2 separate regions of the Homo sapiens genome follow, and region 1 is linked to region 2. Evidence: fine-mapped expression QTL. A gene starts in region 2. The other region holds a variant in brackets. All regions are shown on one strand. Distances are between the middles of the regions. Region 1 overlaps LINC02884 (long intergenic non-protein coding RNA 2884). Region 2 holds the start of LINC02884 (long intergenic non-protein coding RNA 2884).

The links. PIP is the estimated chance that this variant, and not a neighbour inherited with it, causes the effect.
Region 1: its variant is the best candidate, but not a certain one, in a credible set for the expression of LINC02884 in prefrontal cortex (ROSMAP, PIP 0.55).

The regions. Positions count from the first base shown.
Region 1 is chr1:112,241,497-112,246,014 of GRCh38, forward strand. All of the region lies in intron 1 of LINC02884 (long intergenic non-protein coding RNA 2884), which reads right to left. Among named protein-coding and RNA genes, the nearest start is that of LINC02884, 120 kb to the right of the region's middle. The variant G/A (reference allele first, on the strand shown) is at 2,142.
Region 2 is chr1:112,358,645-112,362,644 of GRCh38, forward strand. LINC02884 (long intergenic non-protein coding RNA 2884) reads right to left here and starts at 1,963. Exons shown (of 2, transcript NR_183466.1): 1 at 1,718-1,963.

The DNA.
Region 1 (4,518 bases), 120 kb before region 2:
AAATAAAAAGCTAAATGAGTAGGTAAAATGTATAGTATGCAACATAGTGATAATCACAAGGAAAATAAAACAAGGAAGGGAGATAAGAGTGCCAGGAGTTATGTTATAAATTGGAGGTAGAGGGTAGAGAAGAACTCACCGAGAAAGTGGCTGGCATGGGAGCAAAGAGCTGAAGGAGGCAAAGGAGGGTGCAACGCAGGTATGTGGAGGAAGAGCATTTCAGGCAAAGGGAACAGCCTATGCACAGAGCCTGAAGTGGAAGTATGCCTGGCATGATGGATGCACAAAGAAAGGATCAGTGTGACTAAGCAGAGCGAGAGAGAAGGAAGTAGAGATTACAGGATCAGAGAAATAATGGGCGTGACTGGGAGGCGCATTATACCTTTGGCCACATAGAAAGGGAAATGGGTTGTCACTGAAGAGTTTGAGGCAGAGAAATGACATGACCTGACATGCATTTTAAAAAGCTCACAATAGACGTGGCACGGTGGCTCACACCTGTAATCCCAGCACTTTGGGAGGCCGGGGCGGGCGGATCACGAGGTCAGGAGAGCGAAACCATCCTGGCTAACACGGTGAAACCCCGTCTCTACTGAAAATACAAAAATTTAGCCAGGCGTGGTGGCAGGCGCCTGTAATCACAGCTACTCGGGAGGCTGAGGCAGGAGAATCTCTTGAACCTGGGAGGCGGAGGTTGCAGTGAGCCGAGATCGTGCCACTGCACTCCAGCCTGGGCGACAGAGCAAGACTTCGTCTCAAAAACAACAACAACAACAACAACAACAACAACAACAACAAACTCACACTGGCTCCTGGAACTGACTTGACTGTAGGGGGCGTGACTGATGCTAGCAGACTATTGTAGTAACCCAGGCAGAGATCATGGTGGCTTCCACCAGAGTGGGACAGTGGTAAGATTTGGAGCATGTTTTGAAATAGAGCCAAAATGACTTAATAATGACTGGGATGTGGATTGACAGAAAAGTGTCCAGAATGATTACAAGATTTCGAGCCTGAGCAATAGGAATGCTAGAATTATCATCAACTCAGATAAGGACGACTAAGAAAGGCCGGTTTGGGAGGTGGGGAAACAGTCGAAGAAAACCCACTGACACCGGCAGGATTCCATGCCTACATTGAGAGGAATCATTGTGCAAGATGGATGAATGGGGTACTCTGGTTGGCCAGCCTGTGTCAAGTGCCCTCCAATGTAGGAGGCAAAGCCTCATGATTGACAGCCCCATGGGATGGGAAAGTTATAATTCCTCAAAGGAAAGGTATACCTTTCACACAGATAGAGAAGCCACAGAGAGAAGCTAGGTGGCTTGTCCAGAGTCACACAATTTCTAGGAAATAGGAAATTTCTCTCCTGCTTCTCTTTACCCACATGCACAAAATCTGGCTGACTGCAGGCTGAGTCCCATCACCTGATATCAGTAAGAGCCTGTATGGTACACATTAGAATGAGCTCAAGTTGGCAAAATACACCCACAGGCACTAAACAGGGCCATCGCCCGTCAGAAGCAACAGCCATCTCTGAATCCTCAGGGTCTGGCACAGTGGTAGACACATAGTAGGTGCTCCAGAAACATTTACAAACGAATGAACAAAGCAATGGAAGCCCCACCGGGCTAGCCACTGGAAAAGTGGTTCTTTTGCTCAACTTCTTCCTAGGCTACAAAGAGATATATGCTATGGCTCTACTCTGGCCCCTCCCCTGCCCACTCCCCAGCAAAATTCTCTTTGAGAAAAATCTGTAGACATACAGAACCACTTGCTTTCCTCTTCCATAGTGGAGGAGAAGGGCCCAGAGCTGTGGTGCTCAGCAACACAGGTGGTTACTTGCTACCCAGAGGCCTGTGGCTTTGGTTTGGGGGAGTGGGAAGCTGAGCAGAGAGCCTGACCATCCAGGCTGCCACACACTCTGGCTTGTAGCAACTTCCCATCCCTGGCTCAGAAGCTACCCCTGGCTCTGGGCTGGTCCAGGGCTGGCCTAGCAGCCAAGGTTCTTTCAGTGAACCGGAAGATGGGAAAGAAAGGCTGAGAAGGAGGAGACGAGAGAAGCAGTGCCTGGGTGCCCAGAGTCAGAGGGACAAGTAACGCCTGTAAAATGTGGAGTCTAAATGAAGGGCAAGAGAAAA[G/A]AAGAGCATGAAGGAAGGAGGGAGAAAGGAGAGGAGAGGGAGGGATTGATTCCTCCAAAGCAGGCCAAGCCCCCAGGATCTGGCTGCTCCTAGAATCATCCTCCTGCAGAGGAGAAGTGAAAGGCCTCCTGCCAGTGGTCAGTGGGCGTGGACAGGAGAGACAGGAAGGACCATATCCTGATCCCTCTCCCCATCCTTTCTCCACCCTTCAGGCCCCAGGAGGCTGACACCAGAGGACTGTCTCACCAGGCTCCCTTGCTGTGCATCCAGTAGGGTTTGTAGGGGGGCCAAAGCAGGAACAGCTGGCAGAGTTCAGAATATGGGAAGAGAGAAAAGTCAGGGCATTTCTTCCCTATACCCTGCCTGTTTCAGGGCCACGTCTCTGGCTCTATCCCTGCATGGCTGTAGCTCCTGCAGAGTGGCCTCCTTTGCACAGTTGCTCCAGGGGCACCATTCTCTACCCCACTTCAGTCCCATCTCTCCAGCCTTAGGGATAGTGCAGCTTGTCTCTAGGTGCCTCGCCATTTCTTGTTTTCCCTCCATGCTGCCCTCACTTCTGTAAATCATTCCTAAGTTAAGTCCTCTTCATTTTAACCATCTGGGATGAACCATCTGAGATGAACCCATTTTCTTTTGGAGACTGTGGCTAATGCAGGCCCCAAGACTCCCTGAGAAATCCTGAGCACCAAACAGTGACTAAGGGGCAAATTCGCTCATCCAGAACATGGTTACTAAAGGTCTGCTCTGTGCTAGACACATTGAAAGGCCCAGAAATGATTCAGATTTGGGGCCCACTCTCTAGAAGCACATTGTCTAGCCAGAGCTGAGGCTGCAGAGACTTGGGGTCCCCAGCTGCCTGGGGACTCCTTAGCACATCCAGCCGCTCACTGCAACCAAAGGCTGGGGCTGCTGTCTCCCTGCCCACAACTGCCTCAGGCTGCTGCTTTGTGATCACTTTTCCCTTCAAGGTTGCCCTGGATCTTCGATTTTCCTTGACTTCTGGAAAAGGATGGAGCTGGGCAGAGGGTACAGGAGAGAGGAGAGGTCCCCAGTGGGCTTTGTGTTGCTTCCACACCTCTTAACGCTTAGACAAGAGCCAGCACAGGATGTGCGGCCAAAATGCATTTATCAAAGAAGCAAGTGTTCCTCCTGAGTAGAGGGGCAAGCATGCAAGGTCCTGGCAAGATGCAGCACTGGGCTGCACACAGGGAGAAGGAAAAGCCAAGGCCCCTGGGGCGCACAGCTCCATCATCAATACAACAGCTGCCTTCAGACAGAAATGCTAAGTGCAGAGTACAATATCCAAGCGAGGGACCCCAGCTGAAGGGTCGCACCCAACAGAATACACCACCAAAGCAGAGCAAGAAACTTGTGCACTGAAGTGATACAAAGCTGACGAAGAGTTTATATAAGCATGGTTAAGAACACAGACTCTGGAATCGCAGTGCCCAAGTTCAAATCCCACTTCTGCCCCTTACTTGCTGCATGACCTTGAAGTTACTTAACTGCTCTGTGCTTCACTTTCCTCACCTGTAAATTCTGTAAATTGAGGATGATAATAGTATCTGTCTCATGGGTTTGTGGTGGAGACTAAGTTAGTTATGAAGCTAGTAAGTTACAAAGCAAGTGCTCTTAGAACAGTCAGCCACAGGCGCATTACAAGTGCTATATATGTGCTTGCTATTATTAGTATTTGCTATTACAAAAGAGCAAAGCTGCATGGGCACAAGGGCAGACTACAAGCTGTGTAGACGTGATAGTATTGAAAATTATCAGCCAAGTGACACCAAAGCACACTTTACTTTTTGTATTTTCTACATGACAAAAGTTTTTTGACTTTTCTTGTACCATGCAACTTTGAAGAATAAACACACCTTATGCTTCAAAGTTGCCCAGCTAATTTCATCTTCTTTTGAAGATGGTTTTATAATGTTTCTGATACAATTTTCTTCACTTCCATGAAGTTGAGGGGCACCTGCCAGTCCAATCCAAGAAAAGAGGAATCACAGTTTTGCCTGGAACTGGATCTAAAGGAAGCCTCCCAAATGAAGACCAAATGGCAGGTGCAGAGAAGTGGTGCCCCACAGAAGTAAAGAACAAGGATTCTGGCATTGCACTGGAGTTCAAATCCCAAATAGACCACTGACAAGCTGTGTGACCTTGGGAAAGTGGCAACCTCCTCAAGCTTCAGTTTCTTCACCCATAGTTAGGAGAGATAGCTCCCTCTTCCAGGAGCTGTAAAAAGATCAATTACGTAAATCAAGGTCTACAGGATGCCAAACTCCAAGTCTGCTTTGGCATAGGTGCCCATCGCACTTTCCACTTTCTTTTTCCTGGAGAAATGGCCCTATTACCCACAGGCTGCCTGGGCTCAAGG
Region 2 (4,000 bases):
GTAGATGGCACATGGAAGAGCTCAATAAACACTAACTATCCTCAAAACACATGAAAACTACTCAAGAGACATTTCACTTGCGGGCACATGAACTTACTACCAATTGAGAGTCTCAGCGCTGAGGTTGTGCAGTGAAGGAGCATGTCAAATGGTGGGAATTAATCAAGAAATCCTTTCAGGAGGAAGGACAACTTCAACACAGGTTAAAAGAGAAGAGACAGGATAGCACTGCCTGCAGCTGTGCATGTCCTAGCGTGTGTCCCCATTATGCTAGACCCACAGCCAAGAGGAGCCAAGCAACCCCACAGAATTACCAGCAAGCCGCCAGCAGATGGAGCCAGCCACCTCCACACACTGCTGTTCAAGGCACCAGCACCCTCTAAATGGACCGGCACCCAGCCCACGTCCAGTCAGGAGCAGGACTGAGAGAGATCAAGGAAGAGTCACCCTTCACGCCCCTGTGGAGATGATAAGGGTGCTTTCCTGCCCCAGTGTGAGGGGAGAGGGAATCCAGACTCTCCCTGATGCCTCAGAGGCACAGCTCACTGTCAGAGTCCTTGCCATCCTGGAAGCCTAGGACTGCAGCCCAGTGCCCTTGTTGTTCACCTACCCCACTGTGGGAAGGAAAAGCAGGATGCCTGATGAACTTACTTTGAGGGCTGGGACTGCACTTGAATGTAGAGACTGGTATCCATCTGAGTCTGGGAGATTCTGAAAGCAAGAGGCCCACTACAGTAGCCCATCCGGCAGGGCTCGAAGGACCCTGGGGCAGCATGACTGGGAAGAAGATGGGGGCAGCTCTCCCTTCCCAGGTCTGTGGGGCCCTTGAAGGATTATGGGAGAGGATTCCTGCAGGCCCTGTGGCTCTGCATGGAGATGCACGGAAGTCAGTGGAAGGGCAGGAGCTGAGGGTTTGCCCAGGTACCCATGGCCAAGTCAACAAAGGGTCGTTGGGCACCTGTACCACTGTTGAGGCTAAAGAGAGGTGCATCTGTGTGAGGGAAGGAGGGGGAAAGGGTGGTGTTCAGTGATGGAGGAGGGTGGGGTGAGATCTTCAGCATCTAACAGAGCCACAAAGAACAGGAAGGGGAAAAGGACACTCCTGTAAAGAGGTCTCTTACTCTCCATCCCTCCTCTCTGCCCAAATACAGATGCTGAGGCCTCAAAGAGGGAGGAGGTGAGGCATCTTCAAGCCAGGCCCTACTTCCCCTCCACTGCTCCAAACAACCAGGACCCAACTCTCACTTGTGCTGGAGGGAAGGGGAGAGAAGAGCTCTGAATCGAGTTTGCAATGAAAGTTTTAAAAATATAAGAGGCTGAGTCTTAATTACTGGAATGAGACTGTTATAGTAACCGAAAGTGGCTGAAAAGTTATGGAACCAGACCAAGATGTCGTTAAGGGAGCGGCTCCTCAGCAGGAAAGAGAGATCTGGCACAGCACAGCCAGGGCAGTTACTGGAAGAAATAAAATCTTTTCATGTTTATACCCCAACGAGTTGAGACTCCCCAGTGAATCAGGCACACAGGAAGTACCTGGGCCTTGGACACCAGTGTCCCTGTGGTCAGAGTACCCCATGAAGGATGATGTCACGCGGAGCACAACCTCCTCTTCCCATTCAGGTGCTGTCTCACCTCCCAGGGCAAGAGAAGCAGGAGGAATTTGTCCTCCAGCTTTAATGAGGCACTTAGAAAGAGGAACAGGATGGTTTCTTCTTACCGGAATCCTCGATGGAATGCAGGCGCAGGCAGCTGAAAGAGATGGTGCAATTTGCATACTTCTGGTGGATTCCAGGAAGCATCAGCCCCATTTCACCCTAACAGCCAGTGGACTCTGCCTGGGAGGGCCAACAGCCAAAGAGAGCTTTCAGTCTCCAGGCTGAGAAAGTCAGGAGAGGAACAAGTCAGGGGACACCACCAGCCCTGGGACAGCGTGGCAGCATATCCAGAAGATCAGGAAACTGCCGCAGAGGCTTGGTCCCCTACTGGAAATTGAAAGAAAATGAAGTTTAGAAAGAGCAGGGTGGGAACTGGTTTGCAGAACAGAATGTTCCCTTGGCTTATTTTCATCTGGGGGAAAGGGAAGAACTAATACTTATTGAATGCCTGTGCTGTATCAGGCACTATGTTCATTCTTGTCTTATTTAATCCTCCCACAACCCTGTAAGGAAAGCATTTTCTCCATTTTACAGATGAAAAAACTGAGGCAGAGTGGTTGCCTAAGGTCACATGTTGTTGGAATTTGAACTTCATGTTTGTCTGTGTGGTAGACAGACACAGAGATGCCATGCTTACATTGCCCCTTCAATAAAGGACTCACTCCCCTGCTACCAAGAATGTTGGTTTTATTTGCCCCCAGCAATTAGTTCCTTCAAGGACCACCTGAGTTTTTAAGCCACAGTCACTCTCTTCTTAAGGCAGCCCCTAGCCAATGGCTGAGCAAGGTGGTAGTACAAAGGCCCATCCCTCTTCTACCAATGCGGAACTCCTCTAACAAGCAATTTTTGCTCAGAGCACCCTGTTAGACTGGCAGAGGCTTTGTCAAGTCTGCATCAGAAGCCAAGAGCTCCTCCTGGCCAAACTGCTTCCTCCCTTTTCCACTCACAGGTGATCCTCCCCTTTGCACTTCTACCTCTGTTGCAGCATCTAGTTCCAGAGAACCCAGTGGAGACTCCTAACAGCCTGACTGCAAAGCTTTCCCTTTTTCTGACACTTTATCTTCATTTTCACTTGTCCTTAGGTAACATTGCTGCAGTGCAGAGAGTGAGCTCCTTCTTGGTAGCAGGGGCTTCACCCCTTCCAGAAGAAAGCTACTGAAGGTTTAGTGATTAAGGCAGTTTCCAAAGAGTTAGTTATCCTTGATGATTATGTGCTCAATGCTCAAAGGCAGTTGCTAACATTCAGACTTTGAGGTCTAAAGTCCAAGTAAAGAGTCTACCCCCACCTTCTCCCTCTCCCTGACGTCAATTCCACCCCCTTAAATTGCTACAACATGGAATTAAGATATATAGTTTTATTATTTGTTGTGCTTAATGGAAAAGCTTTAGGATTTCTGAGTTTAATTTAAAAAGCAGATGGTCATAAGCAACAAAAGAAACAAATATATAAATTGGACTTCATCAAAACTAAAAATTTTGTGCTTCAAAGTACACTATCAAGAAAGTGAAAAAATAAGCCAGCACCCATAATCCCAGCTACTCAGGAGGCTGAGGCAGAAGGATCACTTGAGCCCAGGAGTTCAAGGCCAGCCTAGGCAACACAGAAAGACCCCATCTCTAAAATAATAATAATAACAAAGAAAGTAAAAAGACAAGCCAATTAAATAAGGGCAAAGAATTTGAATAAACATTTTTTCAAATAAAATATACACATAGCCAACGTGCACATGAAAAGTTGTTCAACATCATCAGTCATTAGGGTAATGCAAATCAAAACCAGAATGACACATCACTTTATATCCACTAGCATGGCTATAATTTTTTAAATGGACAATAACAAGTGTTGAAAAGAATGTGGAGAAATCGGAACTCTCATGCATTGTTGGTAAAACTGTAAAACAGTATGGCTGCCTTGGGAAACAGTTTGGCAATTCCTCAAAAAGTTAAATAAAGAGTTACCATATGACCCAACAATTCCACTCCTAGGTATATATCCAAGAAAATTGAAAACTTGTGTCCACATAAAAACTCATACTCAAATGTTCATAGAAGCATCATTCATAATTTCCAAAAAGTAGAAAGAACCCAAATGTTCATCAATTGATGAATGGATAAACCAAATGAAGTATATCCACACAATGGAATATTATTCAGCCACAAAGAATGAAGTACTGATACATGCCACAACATGGATGAACCTTGAAAACATTATGCTAAATAAAGAAGTCAGATATTAAAGCCCACATATTGTATGATACCTCTTATGTTAAATTTGCCAGAATAGGCAAATCCATAGAAACAGAAAGTAGACTAGTGGTTGCCTGGGGCTGGGAGGAGGGAAAAAT